Linked DNA regions of Homo sapiens: all the other regions are linked to region 1. The links come from fine-mapping of genetic effects on gene expression. A gene starts in region 1. Each other region holds a variant in brackets. All regions are shown on one strand. Distances are from middle to middle. Region 1 holds the start of MEAK7 (MTOR associated protein MEAK7). Region 2 overlaps COTL1 (coactosin like F-actin binding protein 1). Region 3 overlaps MEAK7 (MTOR associated protein MEAK7).

Region 1 (5,198 bases):
TTACGACGAGGAAGTGTCCGTCCCAGACATCGGTAGGGCTGAAGGTGAGAAAACCTGGCTTCTGAGGATGTAGGGCAGCGGAACAAAATGGAAGCGGAACTTGATACAAGGGAACCCACAGAAGTCTCGAGGCCAATGTAGGGTTGTGTTATGCACAGCTTTGCAGAGAAGAGGCCACCCCATGTACCCAGGTGTACTGTGAAAGTCCCATGACACCGAGAAAACTTGCCAGGGACTGAAAGCTTTCCATCATCAAGCCTATAATCCCAGAACTTTGGGAGGATCATTTGAGGCCAGGAGTTTGAGACCAGCCTGGGCAACATAGTGAGACTTCGTCTCTGCCAAAAATACAAACCTCAGCCGGGTGTGGTGGCGTGTGACTATAGTTCCAGCTATTCAGGAGGCTGAGGTGGGAAGATCGCTTGAACCAGGAGGCAGAGGTCGCAGTGAGCCAAGATCACAACAGTGCACTCCAGCCTGGGTGACAGAGCAAGACTCTGTCTCATAAAAACACAAACAAAAGTTCCAGCAGCCCATAATAAGTGACCAAGATGTTTTGCTTGACCAGACTTTAGTCAGGCTCCTGGGCCCATCTGTGTACCTCTTTGTAAAATCTGGTTTTAGCAAAACAAAAAACAAACAAACAAAAAAACCCACAAAACCACTCATCCTTGATATTTGATCACCATTATCTGTTCACTTGCTATCTAACCAGGTTTAATGCTTAGGTTAGGGATATCCAATCTTTCAGTTTCCCTGGGCCACACTGGAAGAACTGTCTTGGGCCACACATAAAACCCACTAACAATAACTGATAAGTGCATATATCTACATATATGGTAAAAAAAAAATCTCATGTTTTAAGAAAGCTTATGAATTTGTGTTGGATGTCATTCAAAGCCGCCTTAGGCCACATATGGCCCACGGGTTGGACGAGCTTGCCCTAGGTGATGTCTGATCACCCTGGCCTGCCTTCAGTAACAAACTGCTAGGTAAGCTTACCCAGAATCCACCCTAGCGCCCTGATGTTTCCTCAGTCATCTTCCATCCACTGATCCCCACCCTGCTTCCTGGCTTCCCACTTGCCCATGCTATAATCAGAGTTGAGCCCAATCTCTCTCCTTTACTACAAAATCCCATTGCTGTGGTCCCTATACCCATTGCAATGGTCTTCAATAATTAATGTGCTTTTAATAAGCATCATTAATTAATTTCTTTAACATAAGGTTGAGAAGATTAAATAAGGTAACCCAGGGCATTTGATCTGCTTACTGGAGGTCAGAGACAGAATAATGGGCCCAAGACAACAGAGAATGGCTCCTTGGGATCTTGTCTTAGAACAAGAGAAACTGCCCTGCTTGGAAGAAACGGAAGGTTGCTCTGCCTCCGTGATGGAGGGGTGGACAGGGACCGATTGTCTGCAGGATGGCCCCCAAGGTTCCCACTAGTATCCTAGGAATGGCTTAGTCACCTCCTGCTCAGAGCTTCTCCAACAGGCTGTTACATGGCTGCTTCCCACCCTGGCTGCCAAGCTCCAACTCTCTACTCCAAGGGCCCCGCATCCCTAGAGCCACACAAGGGTCCCTCCGTACCCCCACAAGCTGGGGAGATTCCAACTGCCTCATCTGGACAGGCTTCGAAGTCCTGTCTGTGTCTCAGAGCCCAGAGGCCCTTGTGCGAAGGGGCAGCTTGAGCCTGGGCAAGAAGTTCCTGTGGGCCAGAAGGTGACCTGTCCTGTGCTGGCCACCTACATGGCCTGGGAACAGTTATCAGCTCACTGTCCTGGAAAAGCCCAGATGGGTGTGGTCAGAATACAAGAAGGAAAACCCCCTCCACACACACTTCAGTGTCTACCCCAGACTCGCCTCCTCCGTGGAGGCACCCCTCCCTTTCCGCGTCTACACAGGCTCTGAATCCCCCTTCAACACGGCTGGCCTTGGCCCTGGGGGAAGCACCTCGCCACCCTCTTACCTTGACCACATAAACAGCGGGAGGTGCAGGATGATTCTGATCCCCCCCAGGAGACCCTCCCTCCATCCCGCCCCGCTGTCCCCACCCCTCACCTCCCCGCAGCCTTCACCTCTCCCTCCCCCGACCCGAGGGCCTGAAGAGGCGTGGGAGGCCAGGGAGGGGCAGGGCCCAGGCCTACTCTGGACCCGTCTGCTCCAGTCCCCCGACTCAGCTGGGCCTGCGCCTCTGGGTCAGCTCACTGCGAACCTCAGCCCAGGTACCTACCCTGCCGGGCTTCCTGGTGCTGTCCGGTCCGGTCCAGCAGCCCACGGGCTCCTCTCGAGAGCCGCCCCTTCCCTGTTGCCAGGCAACATTGCTGAGGGGCAGTCATTTGGTCCAATCGTGGAAGCGGAGGTGTGGGGCGGAACCCAAGAGAGGAGTCAGCCAATGGTGACGCGCCTCACAGGGAGTGAGCCGAACCCGGTGGGTGCGGCTCGGGGCGGGGCCGCGGTCTGCGGGAGGAGCGGCTGCAGGCCCGGGAATCCGGCCCGGCTGCGTGCGTACCAAGGAGGCGCCTGGAGAGGGCGGCCAATGACTCAGGCCAGGCCAGGCCAGCAGTGGTACCTGGGGAGAAGGGGTGTCTGGGCTGGGCGCTGGAGCGGAGTAGCCAGGGTGTGGGAGATCCTGGGGGAGAGGCTGAGCTTGGGGGTGAAGACACCCGGGGGAGGAGAGTGGCCCATGTGGAGCCCATGCAGAGGCCTCTGCAGTGCAGCCTCCTGGGCCCCAGGCAACTCTCCCCTGACTCCCCGGCCTGCTGGTCCTGGCCTAGAGCCTCGGGTCCGCCTCCCCTCGGGCCTCCCTCTGCCAGCTGCCCCTGCCTCGCTCTTCCCTGGCACCAGGTCCTTCCCGGCAGCCATCAGGCGCCAGCTCCACAGCCTGGCTAAACAGACTCCCTCCACCCCACGTGCGCCTCTTCAGCCGGTTCCCGTTCACTCCAAGACGTCTGAACCTGTCACCCCACTTCTTCAGCTCGTTCCTTCTCAAACCCACCGAAACCTGGTCCCGGGGGCCTGCTCACTACATCCGAGGTGCGCTTTGGGTCCTCGCAGGCAGCATTTGGCGCTTGGTGATCGTGCTCTCATCAGACCTCTCTCTTGGGCACCCCGGCGCCCATTCCTGGCCCTGGCTCGCTCGCTGTCCCTGGTGGTCTTCCCTGGGCCCTTCTGGCTTCTGCCCTGGAGTTTCTCGACTTCTCCCTACTCTCTCCACCCCACGCATCCTCCCTGGGGTCCACCTTCCTGCAGATTCAGCTCCCGCATGTCCATGGTACCAGTTCTCTCCCCTGCACGGCCTGCTGGTTTTCCAGCCTGGAAAACCGTGACTTCGCCCGCCAACGTCCGCTTGAGTTGGTCTCGAACTCCTGACCTCAGGTGATCTGCCTGCCTCGGCCTCCCACAGTGCTAGAATTGTAGGGGTTAGCCACTGCACCCGGCTGGTCACCTCTTATTCTTTAAGCTGGAACAAAAATAGAAGGCTTTCTGCCTGAGGGCAGCAGGCCTGGCTGGTGACAGTGCACAAGGTAGGGCCCCTCACCAAGACATTGCTCTGAGATCCAAGGCCAATGTCCCAGGAGAAGCAGCTCCACAAACTAACGCATCTACAGCCAGGGTACCCCCAGCTGTGGATGCCAATGACACGAGTAGCCCCAGCTCTTCACCTCGGCTTCTTAGAGTAGGTGCCTGTCACCTGCAGCCAGGGCTCCTGATGCCCAAGACACACGGGCCTTTAGACATGAAGGACTAGACCCTGTTTCCAGCCTTCACACCCCTGTACTTCCTGCACACATCAACCAGGTGTGTCTTTTTCAGTGCCATCCGAGGTAGTGGCATTTTTGACATAGCAACAGTTTTTTGTAGGCTGAGGCACACCAAGGGTGGACAGCAATGGTGGCCTCTCAGGTGCAGGTACTGGGGGGTCCGCAGGAGCAAACCGGAGCCGATGTGTCAGCCTGGGCAACATAGTGAGACTCCATCTCTACAAAAAATGAAAAGCTTGGCCGGGCGTGGTATGGCACACCCGTAGTCCCAGCTACTCAGGGAGCCGAGGCAGGAGGATCGCTTGAGCCTCAGAGGGCGAGACTGCAGTGAGCCGTGATTGCACCACTGCACTCCAGCCTGGGCAGGAAAGTGAGATCTTGTTATTAAAACGGTGAAACAAAATCCCCCAGAAAACCACAGAAGCAAATGCGGAGCGGCGCCGTTTGAGAGCTACCGAAGTGGCGCCACCTCGTGGCCATACCCTCCAGAAACAGCCTACACTCCAATCTGCCCACCTGCCTGGTTGGAAAGTTTCTGTTTTTGATGGAGTTTCACTCTTGTTGCCCAGGCTGGAGTGCAATGGCGCAATCTCGGCTCACTGCAGCCTCCACCTCCCAGGTTCAAGCAATTCTCCTGCCTCAGCCTCCCGAGTAGCTGGGATTACAGGCATAGGCCACCACACCCAGTTAATTTTTATATTTTTAGTAGAGACGGGGTTTCACCACGTTGGCCAGGCTGGTCTCGAACTCCTGACCTTAGGTAATCCACCCACCTCGGCCTCCCAAAATGCTGGGATTACAGGCATGAGCCACCGCCCCTGGTATTCTCAATTTTTTTAAATAAGAGATTTATATTGCTTGACATTTTGCATATAAAGTGAGACTCTTTTAAAAATATACATCATGCTATTTCAACAAGCTGGTGCTCCCGGGGATGTCCATGGGCTGTCCAACTGCCCCCGGGGCACCAGCTTCTGTTTTTTATGCTGACTTTGGGCACTGAACTCTCCTTGGCTCCCAGAGGTCCTGACCAGGCTGGTCCTGCCATCCACAGCGGTGCCTCTGCTAGCGACATCCCTGCCCAATTTTCCATGTCCAGCTTTGACACCTCCACAGAAAGGCTGAGCCACCACCGGGCCCCCATTGTGGCTGAGCATCCACTCTCTCTTCCCCATGTGCTCCTTGCCCCCGACTCCCCATCTCTGGAACCCAAGTTTGGGCTGCATGGACCACCTTCTGGGCCAGGCTGTTAGGAGGCCACCACCAAGCAGCAAACGCAGGAGCAGCCGTGCCCTGAGGAGGCACCACCAGCAGCCTCCAGCAGCACTCGGTGAGGCGGGCAACGATCCATCTGTGCCGCCAGCATGGAGCCGGAAGCCACGGCTGACTTGTGCAGTAGAGGAAGTCGAGTTCATTTTATTGAATTTATTCT
Region 2 (8,331 bases), 67 kb after region 1:
CTCTCGCCAGCTGGGACAAGCAAGCTTCAGCCACCAATGTTCCTAATGACGCAGGAGCCTCCAGTCCTGGGTCTGCCATGGGCTCTCCACCCGCACTGAGTTACACGAGGGTAGAGGCTCTGCCTTCTTTCAACAAATACCACGCCAGGCTGTGGGGCTACAGGGCTCAGCAAAATGGATGCAGTCAGTCTTTCCTCTTGCAGTACACAGGTTTCACCCATAGAACCCGCAGGCACCCATGATGCACTCAGTAAACGCTTGTGGCATGAATGAGGGAACCAGGTGACCTGGCTTATCAGACACCCTTAAGCCATGATGATACACAGTTACTGCCATATGTGGATCATAAGACTTTAACAAACAAAATTTCAGAACGATGACGGACAGCTTGACAAAAAAAAGCTATCAAAACCACAAATAACACGTCTAAAGGTAAGAAAATCATCCACATTAAAAAAAAAAGCCCATAAGGAAATAACATAAACAATGACCACCATTTTTCTTTTTCTTGAGAGAAAAGCCTGTTGCCCAGGCTGGAGTGCAGTGGCGCAATCTTGGCTCACAGCAACCTCTGCCCCCAGGGTTCAAGCCATTCTCATGTCTCAGCCTCCCAAGTAGCTCGAACTACAGGCGTCTGCCACCACACCCAGCTATTTTTTGTATTTTTAGTAGAAGCAGGGTTTCGCCACATTGGCCAGGCTGGTCTCAAACTCCTGGCCTTAAGTGATCCGCCCAGCTTGGCCTCCCAAGGTGTTGGCACTACAGGCGTGAGCCACCACGCCCGGCTAACCACAATTATTAAGCACTTATGTGTACCAGCACAGTGCCACAGTACTGAGAATGACACACAGTAGTAAATATGAATCATGGAAGGTGGAAGCAACCCCTATGTCCATCAACAGAGGAGTGGATTATCAAAACACGGTCCGTCCACACAATGGAATATTCCTCAGCCACAGAGAGGAATGAAGCGCTGCCACACGCAACTACATGGATGAACCTCGGAAACAGGATGCTGAGTGAAAGAAGCCAGGCATGAAGACCATGTACTGTCAGCTGCCATTGGTATAAATGTCTAAAAAAGGCAAACCCATACAGACAGAAAGCAGACTCGTGGTTACACAGAGCTGGAGATGGGAACAGGAAATGATAGAGACGTTCTAAAATTGGGATTGTGGTAATGGGTGCACAACTCCACAAATTCACGAAAAAGTACTGAAAAAGTACACTTAGGATGACTTGATTTTGAGGTACATACATCATACCTCAATCAAGTTCTTTTTAAAAAGGCCCGTAAGGTGATCAACATTATTTCCATTTTAAAGGTGAGGAAACAAAGGCTGGAAATTACAATGCTTGTCCGAAGTCAGACAACCAGAAGGTCCAGTTGATGCCAAAGCTGGCGTCTTGAAAGAGCCACCATCTCCTTTTGGGGTGATGAAAAAGTTTTGGAACCAGACAGAGGTAGGGCTTGCACAACACTGTGAATGTTCTGAAAGCCACTGAATTGTACACTTTAAAATGGTTCAGGCCAGGTGCGGTGGCTCACGCCCGTCATCCCAGCACTTTGGAGGCCGAGGCAGGCAGATCACCTGAGGTCAGGAGTTCGAGACCAGCCTGGCCAACATGGCGGAACCCCATCTCTACTAAAACTACAAAAATCAGCCGGGCGTGGTGGCGGGCGCCTGCAATCCCAGCTACTGGGGAGGCTGAGGCAGGAGAATCGCTTGAACCCGGGAGGCGGACGTTGCAGTGAGCCAAGATCGCGCCACTGCACTCCAGCCTGGGCGACAGGGTGAGATCTGTCTCAAAATAAATAAATAAACATAAAAAGGTTCATTTTATGTTAAATGAATTCCACCACAATTAAAAAATAAAAAACAAAAAAGTCGCCATATTGCCAAGAATGATGAGCCCAGGAGCATCCCGAAGTCAAGCTTTACAATAAAAAGACAATGCATTTGGCGCGCAAAGCCACTGAGAACACTAACAAAGTGGAGAACGGGAGGTTAATTTTTATCAAGCAGCTGATGTGTGCCAGGAACAGCCTCACTCATGTTCTCGTTCAGCCCTCAGTATATTAACTTTATTTTATTTTACTTTTTGAAGATAAGACTCATGGGCTGGGCTTGGAGAGATTTGCCCAGAATGACAGAACACCCTTGAGATCCTTTCTGTTCCCACCCCACTACAGTGTGTTACTAAGTGTATGTGATCCGTGCAATGAAAGAACACAAGTTGGATGTAAGAGCCAGAAAGGAGAATTGAGAATTAATGTATTTCTCAACCCTGAGCCCCACGGCATGAGGGAGGGGCAGAGAGCTTTCAGAAGGAGGAAGCCAACAGCTTAAGATGCTTATAGAAGAAAAGTCCAAAGTTCCTCTGCTTTGTGATAGCTATATATGGCAATCTACAGAAATAAGAACACTTGAAGTTCCAGTCGGTTAGCTATTAGAAGATTTAGATTAAGAAAAATAAGTTTGAGAGCCATGGATGGTGGCTCATGCCTGTAATCCCAGCACTTTGGGAGGCTGAGGAGAGCAGATCATGAGGTCAGGAGATCGAGACCAGCCTGGCCAACACGGTGAAAACCCTAATCTACTAAAAATATAAAAATCAGCTGGGTGTAGTGGCGCGAGCCTGTAATCCCAGCTACTCAGGAGGCTAAGGCAGGAGAATGGCTTGAACCTGGGAGGCAGAAATGGCAGTGAGCCAAGATGGCGCCACTGCACTCCAGCCTGGCAACAGAGCGAGATTCCATCTCAAAAAAAGAAAAATAAGTTTGATAAGGTCTAAGAAATCTCAAATGAAAGATACATGGAGCTAGGCACAGGTCAACCTAAAACCACAAGTACTTAGGAAATCAAATTATAATGAAACAAAAACAAGCAAAACAGACAGCAGATCTAGTAAAACATAACAATAAATGTAAATGAACAAAATTATCTTTAAAAATGCTATGTTTCAAACTACAAAAAAAAAACCCTCAAACCTTGTACTACATACCAGAGACATATTTAAAATCAAAAGATTAGCAGAAAAATGATTCCAAGTTATACAAACAAAAGTATATACAAAAGCAACCATATGATCTCTGAAAACATTTAAAGCAAACTGAGTCTCACAAGATAAACAGGGTCATCCTGCAACTTGATAACCCTCCTGGCTCAGCTGATGTTCTTTCCTCTCTGCTCGGTAGAAAATAGAATGGAAGGTTATTTTCCCTGTTGAAGGGCTGTTTTTATCATCAGTACTTAGAGAGGTCTTAAAAGACAAGTCGTCCAGCAATCCGATTACTGCCAAAAAGCAAAGGGTTAGAAAGCAAGTGTCTTAACACACTGAACTGGCTCATACCTAAAAGTCCTGTATTCCTATTTCGTTTCCAATTTATCCTCAGGGGAACACAGAGAGAATGTGCAAAATTGAGTCTTCCCTCATTCCTGCTTTTTTTTTTTTTCCTTTTTTGCCTCTTCCAATGACCAAGAAAGACAAAACTTTAAACATTTCTGAAGATACAGTGACCATGGCCATGCTCTAGGCCCCTTTAGAACAGACCCCAGATTCTCTGTTCGGAAGAATCCTGACATACTGCCTCCAGGGGTGGGCTGAAGACCTTGTATTCAGACATGAGCCTGTTGGCTCCCTTCACCTTCAGTCTGGCTGACAGCTGGTGCATTTGGCTCTGCTCCCGTCCTCACACGAGAGCCCCCGCCGCGTGACTGCCAAGGTGTACAGCCTGGGACTCGATGCAGCCCACGCCAGTGCAAAGCCGAGCAGAGAGAAGGGATGGACGGAGGACACTGGAGGTCCGGGCTCCCTCTGGGCCTTAGTATCACCATGGCCTCATAGACAGCAGGGTTGGTGGTCCTTAGAGGTCATCTCTTGCCCCTCAATTCAGAAGGGGAAACTGAGGCTCGGCGAGTGACACCATGAGGCTGGTTAAGCGGCAGTCATGCCCCAGCCCACTGCTCTCCACCCTTGCACCTGGGTCCGCTCATCTCTCCCCCCTGCCCATCAGCTTCCCTCCCCTCTTTGTGTCTCCTCCTCGTGCTGCTCCTGTGTCTTGTCCACCCCTTCCCCGTTCTTTGAGCCTGGCAGTGACTCCTAGCACCTTCCAAATAAAGTGTCTACATCTCCATCCAATCATCCCCCTGGGATCGGCTCCCCGCTGTCACCTCACCGGCAGACTGGTCATGCACGGGCCCATTGCCTGGACGTCACGTGGACACATGGGTGAGACGGTGAGACGGGCCTGTGACCAACAGTGGTCAGTTCCCTTGCAGCCAGAGCTGGACCCCAGCCTGCTCCTGAGTGGACACCGAGCCGCTCCCACCTTCTATAGGGCCAGCAGCAACTCTGCAGGGGCCCAGGTGGTCAGGCCGCATGGAGGGGGTACTAGCAGGCCTCCATCCTACACGGGGTGCTCCCAAGCCCCCAGAGGCTTACAAAGGTGAGCCAGCACCTTCCATTCAGGGCGTGGACTCCACAGAATGTCCCCAAAATGTCTAACCTGAGCCTCAGCCTAAAAACCAACTGACAACAACCTCCACACCTCTCCACCTCCACGCCTTCCAGCGGCTCCCATGAGATAAGGGAGTTGCAAGCACCACTGGGGAGTGGGCTTCATTGCATGTTTTCAAAACGAGGCAGAAGCTGAGCAAAACAGCTCTGGGCAGACAGACTCTGACTTGGGAGCAATGCCTGAAACTGGAGGGAGCCTGCGTGGAGCAGCTGAAGTCTGCCTTGCACCTGAGGCTGGAAACCAGAGGGAACATATGCATGCAAAGCGTGGCCACCCCTACACCACACACACCTCAAGACACAGCACTTGCCAGCACCCACATGCCACCAACACCCACGGGGGCAGGGGCAGGTGGCAAGACTCAGGAGGCAAGTCCTTCATCAGAAGGAGACTTCCAGGGCCTAGAGCAATGCGGACACACACAGAATGTTAATTTCTCTTTTTTTGAAACACAGTCTCACTCTGTCACCCAAGCTGGCGTGCAGTGGTGCGATCTCGGCTCACTGCAGGCTCAACCTCCTAGGTTCAAGCGATCCTCCCACCTCCGCCTTCCTAATAGCTAGAAATACAGGCACAAGCCACCACGTCCAGCTGATTTTTGTATTTTTCTGTAGAGACGTGGTTTCGTCATGTTGCCCAGGCTGGTCTCCAACTCCTGGGCTCAAGCGATCCACCCATCTTGGCCTCCCAAAGGCCAGAATTTTGAATTTTCTTTCTTTCCTTTTTTTTCTTAGACAGGTCTCACTCTGTCACCCACGCTGCCAGGCTGGAGGGCACTGGTGCAATCTCAGCTCACTGCAACCTCCACCGCCTGTGCTCAAGCAATCCTACCACCTCAGCCACCGAAGTAGCCGGGACTACAGGTACACACCACCATGCCCGACTAATTTTTTTTTTTTTGGTAGATAATGGGGTTTTACCATGTTGCCCAGGCTGGTCTCAAACTCCTGAGATGAAGTGATCCACTGACCTCGGCCTCCCAAAGTGCTAGAATTACAGGCGTGAGCCACTTTGCCTGGCCGGGAATTTTCAATTTGCTACTAGCCACATTGAAAAATGTAAGAAAGAAACCAGTGCCATTTATTTTAATAGTATTTTATCTAATCCAATATATGCAAAATATTGTCATTTCCACAATGTAATCAATGCTAAAAGGTACTGACGAGGTCCTTTACATTCATTTCTTTTGAACCCAGCCTTAGAAACGCTGTGTGCCCTCCGGGTATACGGCACACACTGATATGGCTGGGTGCGCTTTCAGGCGCTCAGTGGCCACACGTGGCCAGCAACAGCGCAGGTCTAGACAGAACACGAAAGCGTCTGAAAGAATAATGTGATCAGGCAAACAGAATCATGAATCGCAGAGCATTAGAGCCCATCCGACAGGGGTGGACATCTGCGCCATGTCCAGATCTGGGTGGTGGCTTCAAAGGTATGCATCATGAACATTCAAAATACACAAAACTTGGGCCAGATGCAGTGGCTCATGCCCAGCACTTTGGGAGGCCGAGGTGAGTGGATCACCTGAGGTCAGCAGTTCAAGGCCAGCCTGGCCAACATGGTGAAACCCCATCTCTACTAAAAATACAAAGAATTAGCTGGGTGTGAGAGGCGGGAGAATCGCTTGAACCGGGGAGGCGGAAGTTGCAGTGAGCTTAGATCGCACCATTGCACTCCAGCCTGGGTGACAAGAGCGAAACTCTGTCTCAAAAAAAAAAA[A/T]ATATATATATATACATACACACACACACACACACACACACACTCAACGAGTAGTATTCCGAAGATCTCTGCGTTTTACTCTATGTAAATTGTGTTTCAGCTGAACAAAATAGTGAAGGGAGGTGGGGCGCTGTGGCTCACGCCGGTAATCCCAAGCACTTTGGGAGGTCGAGAAGGGAGAATCGCTTGAACCCCGGAGTTCCAAGACTAGCCTGGGGAACAGTGGGACCCTTTCTCTACAAATAATAATAATAATAATAGTAATAAATAGCCAACAGTGGTGGTGTGCGCCTGTTGTCCCAGCTACTTGGGAGGCTGAGGCAGGAAGATCACTTGAGCCTGGGAGGTCGAGGCTGCCGTGAGCCATGATCGCACCACTGCACTCCACCCTTGAGACCTGCCATTCACCTCTTCATTATGTAGAGGACCAGCAACAACCCAGAGAGGGGACGCAGTTCATCCCAGGGGACACAGCAACTTCCCGGCAGGGCCCTGGGGATGCGTTCCTGGTGCCAGCCCCACTTTCTCCCCACATCCCGCCTCCAGGGGCTGCTCTAGACTGCCAAGCCCTCGAGGCAGCTGCCACAACCTGCCAGAGACTGCACAGCAACATGTGTCAGTCTGGGGGCACCGTCACCTGTGGCTGAAGAAAGCTCTTTGTTTTGTCTGGGAACTCGGTGTCGCTCTCTCATAGCTGCCAGACGGGGGACTTCTCTTTTCTTGCCAAAGCAGGATTTTCTTCCAAGGGCCTCATCCGACGAAGTCTCACTCCAAGCGGCTGAAGCTGCTTGAATGGTTTGGAATTATGCAACCAGCAAGTGGAAGACCAGTTTTTTTGTTTTTGTTTTTTCTGAGACGGACTCTCACTCTGTTGCCCAGGCTGGAGTGCAATAGTGCGATCGGCTCACTGCAACCTCTGCCTCCCGGGTTCAAGTGATTCTCCTGCCTCTACCTCCTGAGTAGCTGGGATTACAGACAACCACCACCACGCCTGGCTAATTTTTGTATTTTTAGTAGAGACGGGGTTTCACCATGTTGGCCAGGCTGGTCATGAATGAAGACAAGTTTTGTCCCTGTGACCTTTCTCAAGTGCTTATAGATTCATGCCTCAAAGATGCAAAATAAACATCCATTGAAACCTGTCTCCACCTTTCTGAGGAGGGTAATATAGCAGAGGGTACGGGTTAGGTACAGGGGCTCTGTACAGAGTCTAGCCATCTATTTGCCACGCTGGATTTTAAAGTGCATGTTCTCCTGTCTTGGTTTTAAATCATTCTTTTCTCATTTATTTATTTATCTTTTGAGATGAAGTTTTTGTTCTTGTCACCTAGGCTGGAGTGCAGTGGTGCAATCTCAGTTCACTGTAACCTCCACCTCCCGGGTTCAAGCGATTCTCCTGCCTCAGCCTCTCGAGTAGCTGGAATTACAGGCGCCCACCATCACACCTGGCTAACTTTTGTATTTTTAGTAGAGACGGGGTTTCACCATGTTGGCCAGGCTGGTCTTGAACTCCGGACCTCAGGTGATCCACTCGCCTCAGCCTCCCAAAGTGCTGGGATTACAGGGGTGAGTCACCACGCCCAGCCCATCCTTTTCATTTTTATTTTTATTTATTTTCATTTTTTGAGACGGAGTCTCACTCTGTCGCCCAGACTGGAGTGCAGTGGTGCAATCTCAGCTCAGCACAACCTCCACTTCCAGGTTCAAGCAATTCTCCTGCCTCAGCCTCTGAAGTAGCTGGGATTACAGGCACGTACCACCACGGCCGGCTCATTTTTGTATTTTTATTAGAGACAGGGTTTCATCATGTTGGCCAGACTGGTCTCGAACTCCTGGCCTCAAGTGATCTCCCCCCCTTGGCCTCCCAAAGTGCTGGGATCACAGGCATGAGCCACCACACCTGACCCCTTTTCATTTTTTAATGGCTCCCAACTGCCCAGGTTTAAACCCCAGCATGCTGGGAGCAGGTCCAGGCCAAATACAAACAGGCACCCTTGTCCACAGGCATCTCCAGTGGCCTGAGCCTCCCTGGGGACTCAACCTCCCTGAGCCTGAGTCTCCTCATCTGCAAATGCGGACAATAGCAGCTT
Region 3 (5,862 bases), 31 kb before region 1:
TATATATAAAAGCCTTTTGAATAGATAAAAGATTTAAGAGGTAAAAACAGAAACCACAGTAGAAGAAAATGATTTTTAATACTCAGAGTAGAGACAGACTGCCTAAACAAACGGCAAATCCAAAGACCCTTAAGCAGAAATGCTGGGAAATATGACAGAAACTGTAAAATTTATGGGCAGAAAAACGCCACAAACGAAGTCAAATAAACCGTAGAAAACATTGACCATACATGGGAAATGCTACTTCATTCATAAAAAGCACTGTTGGCCGGGTGTGGTGGCTTGCACCTGTAATCCCAGCACTTTCGGAGGCTGAGGCAGGAGGATCCCTTGAGTTCAGGAGTTCAAGACCAGCTTGGGCAACATATTGAGACCTCATTTCTATTTTATTTTTTAAAAGCACTGTTACAAATCGATAAGAAAAAGACCGACACCCTAGAAAACCAAGAAAAAGATATGATACAGAAAGCTTTTGAAAAATGAGGCTGTTCACTGTCACTTGGTAGAAAAATTTAAACAGTACAGTTTTGAGCAAGACACCATATGGGAGCCCAGCCCACAAGAGACTGCACACCAGCCTGGGGCTCAGCAGCACCAGGGCAGAGGCACAGCAAAGTGCGGGCTGCCACTGCCAAGGTGCAAGTGGGGTGCGTGTTCCCACTCACTGGCATGGGCTGCTGCCACTGAAAGCAGCCTCACCCTCCCCAGTGGCAAGGTCACAGCACAACTGCTGTTACCTCCCACCCAAGCATTCCACCAGAGGCCTGGGGACTGCCCCCTCCCCAGCTACCACAGAAAATGCCTGCGTATGCCATGGAGGGACCTCAGACAAGCCCGCCCAGCCTGGCTTTGCCGCACATGCTGATATGGCTTGGCTGTGACCCCACCCAAATCTCATCTTGTACTTCCCATAATCTCCACGTGTCATGGGAGGGAGCCGGGTGGGGGAGGTAATTGAATCATGGGGGTAGTTACCTCCATGCTGTTTTCATGATAGTGAGTTCTGACACGATCTGATGGTTTTATAAGGGGCTTTGCTCCTGCTTTGCTCTGCACTTCTCCTTCCTACCATCATGTGAAGAAGGACATGTTTGCTTCCCCTTCCGCCATGATTGTAAGTTTCCTGAGGCCTCCCTAGCCATGCTGAACTGTGAGCCAATTAAACGTCTTTCCTTTAGAAATTATCCAGGCTCAGATATGTCTTTATTAGCAGCATATGAGAACGGACTAATACACACACCCTATGCTGGAACACACAGTCTAGATGACTGGGGACGGCCCAGCCGAGGCCACCACTATTGGTACCTGAGCACTCCTCTCAGACTGCTGAGGGTGGGTTCACCCACCCTGCCACTACCTGCACTAGTTGGCATCTACATGCACGTGCCACCTGTGGGCCTGGAGACTGGCCCACCCAGCTCATCACAGCCACCACCACTACCAGGTACACTACTAGGGACCCAGAGGGTTACCCTGCCATTGCCACTGCCACTACCATCTCCTATGCCACACTGGCTGCCCAGGGGCCCAAGAGCCCAGCCACCTGGCCCACTGCTGCCATTTAGCATCCAAGCAAGCTATCCTCAACAAAACACTAGCAAACTGAATCCAACAGCACATCAAAAAAAAAAAAGAAAAAAAGAAAAAAAGAAAACAGGCCGGGTGTGGTAGCTCACGCCTGTAATCCCAGCACTTTGGGAGGTCAAGGCGGGTGGATCACTTGAAGCCTGGAGTTCGAGACCAGCCTGGCCAACATGGTGAAACCCTGTCTCTAGTAAAAATACAAATATTAGCCAGGTGTGGGGGTGGGTGCCTGTAATCCCCACTACTTGGGAGGCTGAGGCAGGAGAATTGCTTGAACATAGCAGGCAGAGGTTGCAGTGAGTCGACATTCTGCCACTGCACTCCAGCCTGAGCGACAAAGCAATATTCCATCTCAAAAAGCAAAACAAAACAAAAATAATACACCACAATAAAGTGAGATTTATCCCACTTATGCAAGGATGGTTCAACATACAGAAATCAATAAATGTGATACATCACATTAATAGAATGAAGGACAAAAACCATATGATCAGATATAAGCAATTAGTAAACTGATGCAGAAAAAGCATTTGATAAAACACGACATTCCTTCCTGAAAAAAAACTGTCAACAAACCAGACAGAAGGGACATACCTCAACATAATCAAGACCATATATGACAAACCCACAGCTGACATCATCCTGAATGGGGAAAAGCTGAAAGCCTTTCCTCTAAGAACTGGAACAAGACAAGGATGCCCACTTTTACCACTCCTATGCAACATAATATTGGAAGTCCTGGCCAGAGCAATCAGGCAAGAGAAAGAAATAAAAAGCATCCCAACTGGCAAAGAGGAACTCAAATTGTCCCTTTTTGCTGATGATATGATCCTGTATCTAGAAAGACTCCATCAAAAAACTATTAGATCTCATAAATTCAGTAAAGTTACAGGATACAAAATCAACATACAGAAATCAGTAGTGTTTCTACATACAGATAATGGAATATCTGAGAAATAATTCAAGACAATAACCCCATTGACAATTACTACAAAAAAAAAAAAAAAAAACCTAGGAATAAATTTAACCAAGAAGTAAAAGATCTATACAAGGAAAACTACAAAGCACTAATGAAAGACATTGAAGAGGACACAAACAAATGGAAAACATCCCATGCTCATGGATCAGAACTAATACCATTAAAATGACCGTACTGCCCAAAGCCATCTAGAGATTCAATGCCATCCCTATCAAAATATGTCATTTTTCACAAAATTAAAAACAAATCCTAAAGTTCATATGGAACCAAAAGAGAGCCCAAGTAGCCTAAGCAATCCTGAGCAAAAAGAACAAGGTTGCAGGCAGCATACCACCTCACTTCAAAATCTATTACAGGGCTATAGTAACCAAAATAGCATGGTATTGCTTTAAAAAAAATTTAAAAAGAGACACATGGACCAATGGAACAGAATAGAGAAACCAGAAATAAGTCTACATATCTATAGCCAACTTATGTTCAACAAAGTTGCCAAAAACATACACTGGGGTAAGGACAGTGTCTTCAATAAATGGTGCTGGGATAATTGGATATCCATATGCAGAAGAATGAAACCCTACCTCTCACCATCTACAAAAACCAGATGAAGACGAATTAAAGATTTAAATGTAAGACCCAAAACTATAAAACTACTAGAAGAAAACAGGGAAAACAATTCACGAACCCAACAATTTAAAAATAAACAATCCCATTAAAAAGTAGACAAAGGACATGAATAGACATTTCTCAAAAGAAGACATATAATGGCCAACAGCTATAAGAAAAAAAAAAAAAGAGCTCAACAT[CACTA/C]ACTATCATCCAATCCAGCAATCCCACTACTGAGTATTTATTCAAAGGAAAAGAATCAGTGTGTCCAAGGGATATCTGCATGCCGACATTTACTGCAGCACTATTCGCAATAGCAAAGATGTAGACACAACCTAAACATCCACCAATGGATGAACGGATAAAGAAAACGCGGTATATACCCTCTCATGCCAGTCAGCATGGCAATTATTAAAATGTCAAGAAACAATAGATGCTGATGAGATCGTAGAAAAACAGGAACGCGGCTGGGCGCAGTGGCTCACGCCTGTAATCCCAGCATTTTGGGAGGCTGAGGTGGACGGATCACAAGGTCAGGAGATCGAGACCATCCTGGCTAACACGGTGAAACTCTGTCCCTACTAAAAATACAAAAAAATTAGCCGGGCGTGGTGGCGGGCGCCTGTAGTCCCAGCTACTCGGGAGGCTGAGGCAGGAGAATGGCGTGAACCGGGGAGGTGGAGCTTGCAGTGAGCGGAGGTCACGCCACTGCACTCCAGCCTGGGCAACAGAGTGAGACTCCGTCTCAAGAAAAAAAAAAAAAAAAAAGAAAAAACAGGAACGCTCTTCCACTGTTGGTGGTAATGTAAATTAGTTCAACCATTGTGGAAGACAGTGTGGCGATTCCTCAAAGATCTAGAATCAGAAATACCACTGGACGCAGCAATCCCATTACTAGGTACATACCCAAAGGAATATAAATCATATGTTACAAAGATACATGCACACATATGTTCACGGCAGCGCTATTCACAATAACAAAGACATGGTATCAACCCAAATGCCCATTAGTGATAGACTGGATTTTAAAAATGTGGCACATATATACCATGGAATACTAAGTAGCCATCAAAAAGAATGAGATCATGTCCTTTGCAGGAACATGGATGGAGCTGGGAGCCATTACCCTCAGCAAACTGGCACAGGAAGAGAAAACCAAACACTGCATGTTCTCACTTATAAGTGGAAGCTGAACAGTAAGAACACATGGATGCAGGGAGGGGAAAAACACAGACTGGGGCCTGTTGGTGGTAGGGCTGCGGGAGGGAGAGGATTAGGAAAAATAGCTAACGCATGCTGGGCTTAATACGTAGGTGATGGGTTGATAGGTTCAGCAAACCACCATGGCACACATTTACCTATGTAACAAATCTGCACATCCTGCACATGTACCCTGGAACTTAATTTTTTAAAAAAGGAAGAGTATATATACACGATGGAATATTATTTGGCCATAAAAAGTGAAATCATGTCATTTGCAACAACATGGATGGTACTGGAGGTCATTATGTTCAGTGAAAAAGGCAGACACAGAAAGACAAATTCTGCATGTTCTCACTGATGTATGTCAGCTAAAAAAAAAAAAAAGTGGATCTCATGGAGGTAGAGAAAAGAACGATAGATACTAGAGGATGGGAAGGATATATGAGTGGGAGGGAGGGAGCAAGAGATGTCGGCTAGTGGGTGCAGGGAGCCGAAGGCCCGTGGGACGTGACCAACTCAGCATTCCACTGGAGGCTGTGTGATCAAACAGCAAACTGTTTATCATGAATGCAGGATGTGGGCAAACTCATGACTGCTCCTGCCAACAGGTTTGCTGGAGGCCATCACTCCCTGTCACCAAGGTTATCTACTGCGACATCTAGAGCCTGTTGTTTGAGGAATGCAGTCTTGCAAGCCTACTCCGGACTGAGCAGCTGACCCCTTCTTCCACCCCCCTTCTCACTATGTCTTTTGCATAACAAATACGGAGGGCTGTGTAAAGTTCAGGGCCCTTGTCCACTAGAGGCAAGGTGCCCCCTGACCCCTTCTTCCAAACATACTCTTTTGTCTCTTGTCTTTTATTCCCATGTTCGCCCCCTTTGTTCGGTCCCCCTAGGTCCATGAGGATTACTTAGTTGCACCCCAAACAGCAACAGAACCGGGTGCCCCACAAGGGGGTACAAACATACAGTTAGAAGAGATAAGTTCTCATGTTCTATAGCAGCACTGGGTGACCAGAGTCGGCAACAATGCACTGTGTATTTCACAGTAGACATAAGGGAAGACTTGCAATGCTTGGAATGTGGAAAGGATACTCAAGTTGACGGACACCCCTAAATACCCTCACTTGATCATTACACAGTCTACACATGTAGCAAATACATGTACCCCATAAGTATGTAAATATTATATCAACAAAATATAGTTTTTGTCTATCAGGTTAAAAAAACATATTTTAATACAGTTTTGCTGAAAACATGGCAAACAGGCACCCCGGTATATTGAGTATAAATTGAGCTCAAGAGGTTTTTTTAATTCATCTATATCTAAATAAAAGGCATATACCTCTCAATCCAACAATTCCAATTCTAAGAGTTTATCCCACAGACACCATCACAGCAAGGCACACATAAACGATATTCATGACAATGATTAGCTGCAAACAAAATGTTCCCCAGCTGCAGACGGTGGAACGCTAGGCCCGAGAGCATCCA

What was found. PIP is the estimated chance that this variant, and not a neighbour inherited with it, causes the effect. A credible set is the group of variants that fine-mapping cannot tell apart.
Region 2: its variant is the best candidate, but not a certain one, in a credible set for the expression of MEAK7 in whole blood (INTERVAL, PIP 0.54).
Region 3: its variant is the best candidate, but not a certain one, in a credible set for the expression of MEAK7 in monocytes after LPS (Fairfax 2014, PIP 0.71).

Annotation. Positions count from the first base shown.
Region 1 is chr16:84,502,366-84,507,563 of GRCh38, forward strand. It overlaps MEAK7 (MTOR associated protein MEAK7), which reads right to left and starts at 2,294. Exons shown (of 8, transcript NM_020947.4): 1 at 2,236-2,294. LOC124903736 (a long non-coding RNA gene) reads left to right here and starts at 2,437. Exons shown (of 2, transcript XR_007065149.1): 1 at 2,437-2,570; 2 at 4,981-5,198. RefSeq lists enhancers at 1,704-2,204, 2,325-3,272, 2,635-2,754, 4,882-5,198 and silencers at 2,035-2,084, 4,270-4,389, 4,373-4,609.
Region 2 is chr16:84,567,511-84,575,841 of GRCh38, forward strand. All of the region lies in intron 3 of COTL1 (coactosin like F-actin binding protein 1), which reads right to left. Among named protein-coding and RNA genes, the nearest start is that of COTL1, 46 kb to the right of the region's middle. RefSeq lists an enhancer at 4,813-5,345. The variant A/T (reference allele first, on the strand shown) is at 6,242.
Region 3 is chr16:84,470,772-84,476,633 of GRCh38, forward strand. MEAK7 (MTOR associated protein MEAK7) reads right to left here. Exons shown (of 8, transcript NM_020947.4): 8 at 5,584-5,862. Among named protein-coding and RNA genes, the nearest start is that of ATP2C2-AS1, 6.3 kb to the left of the region's middle. The variant CACTA/C (reference allele first, on the strand shown) is at 3,367.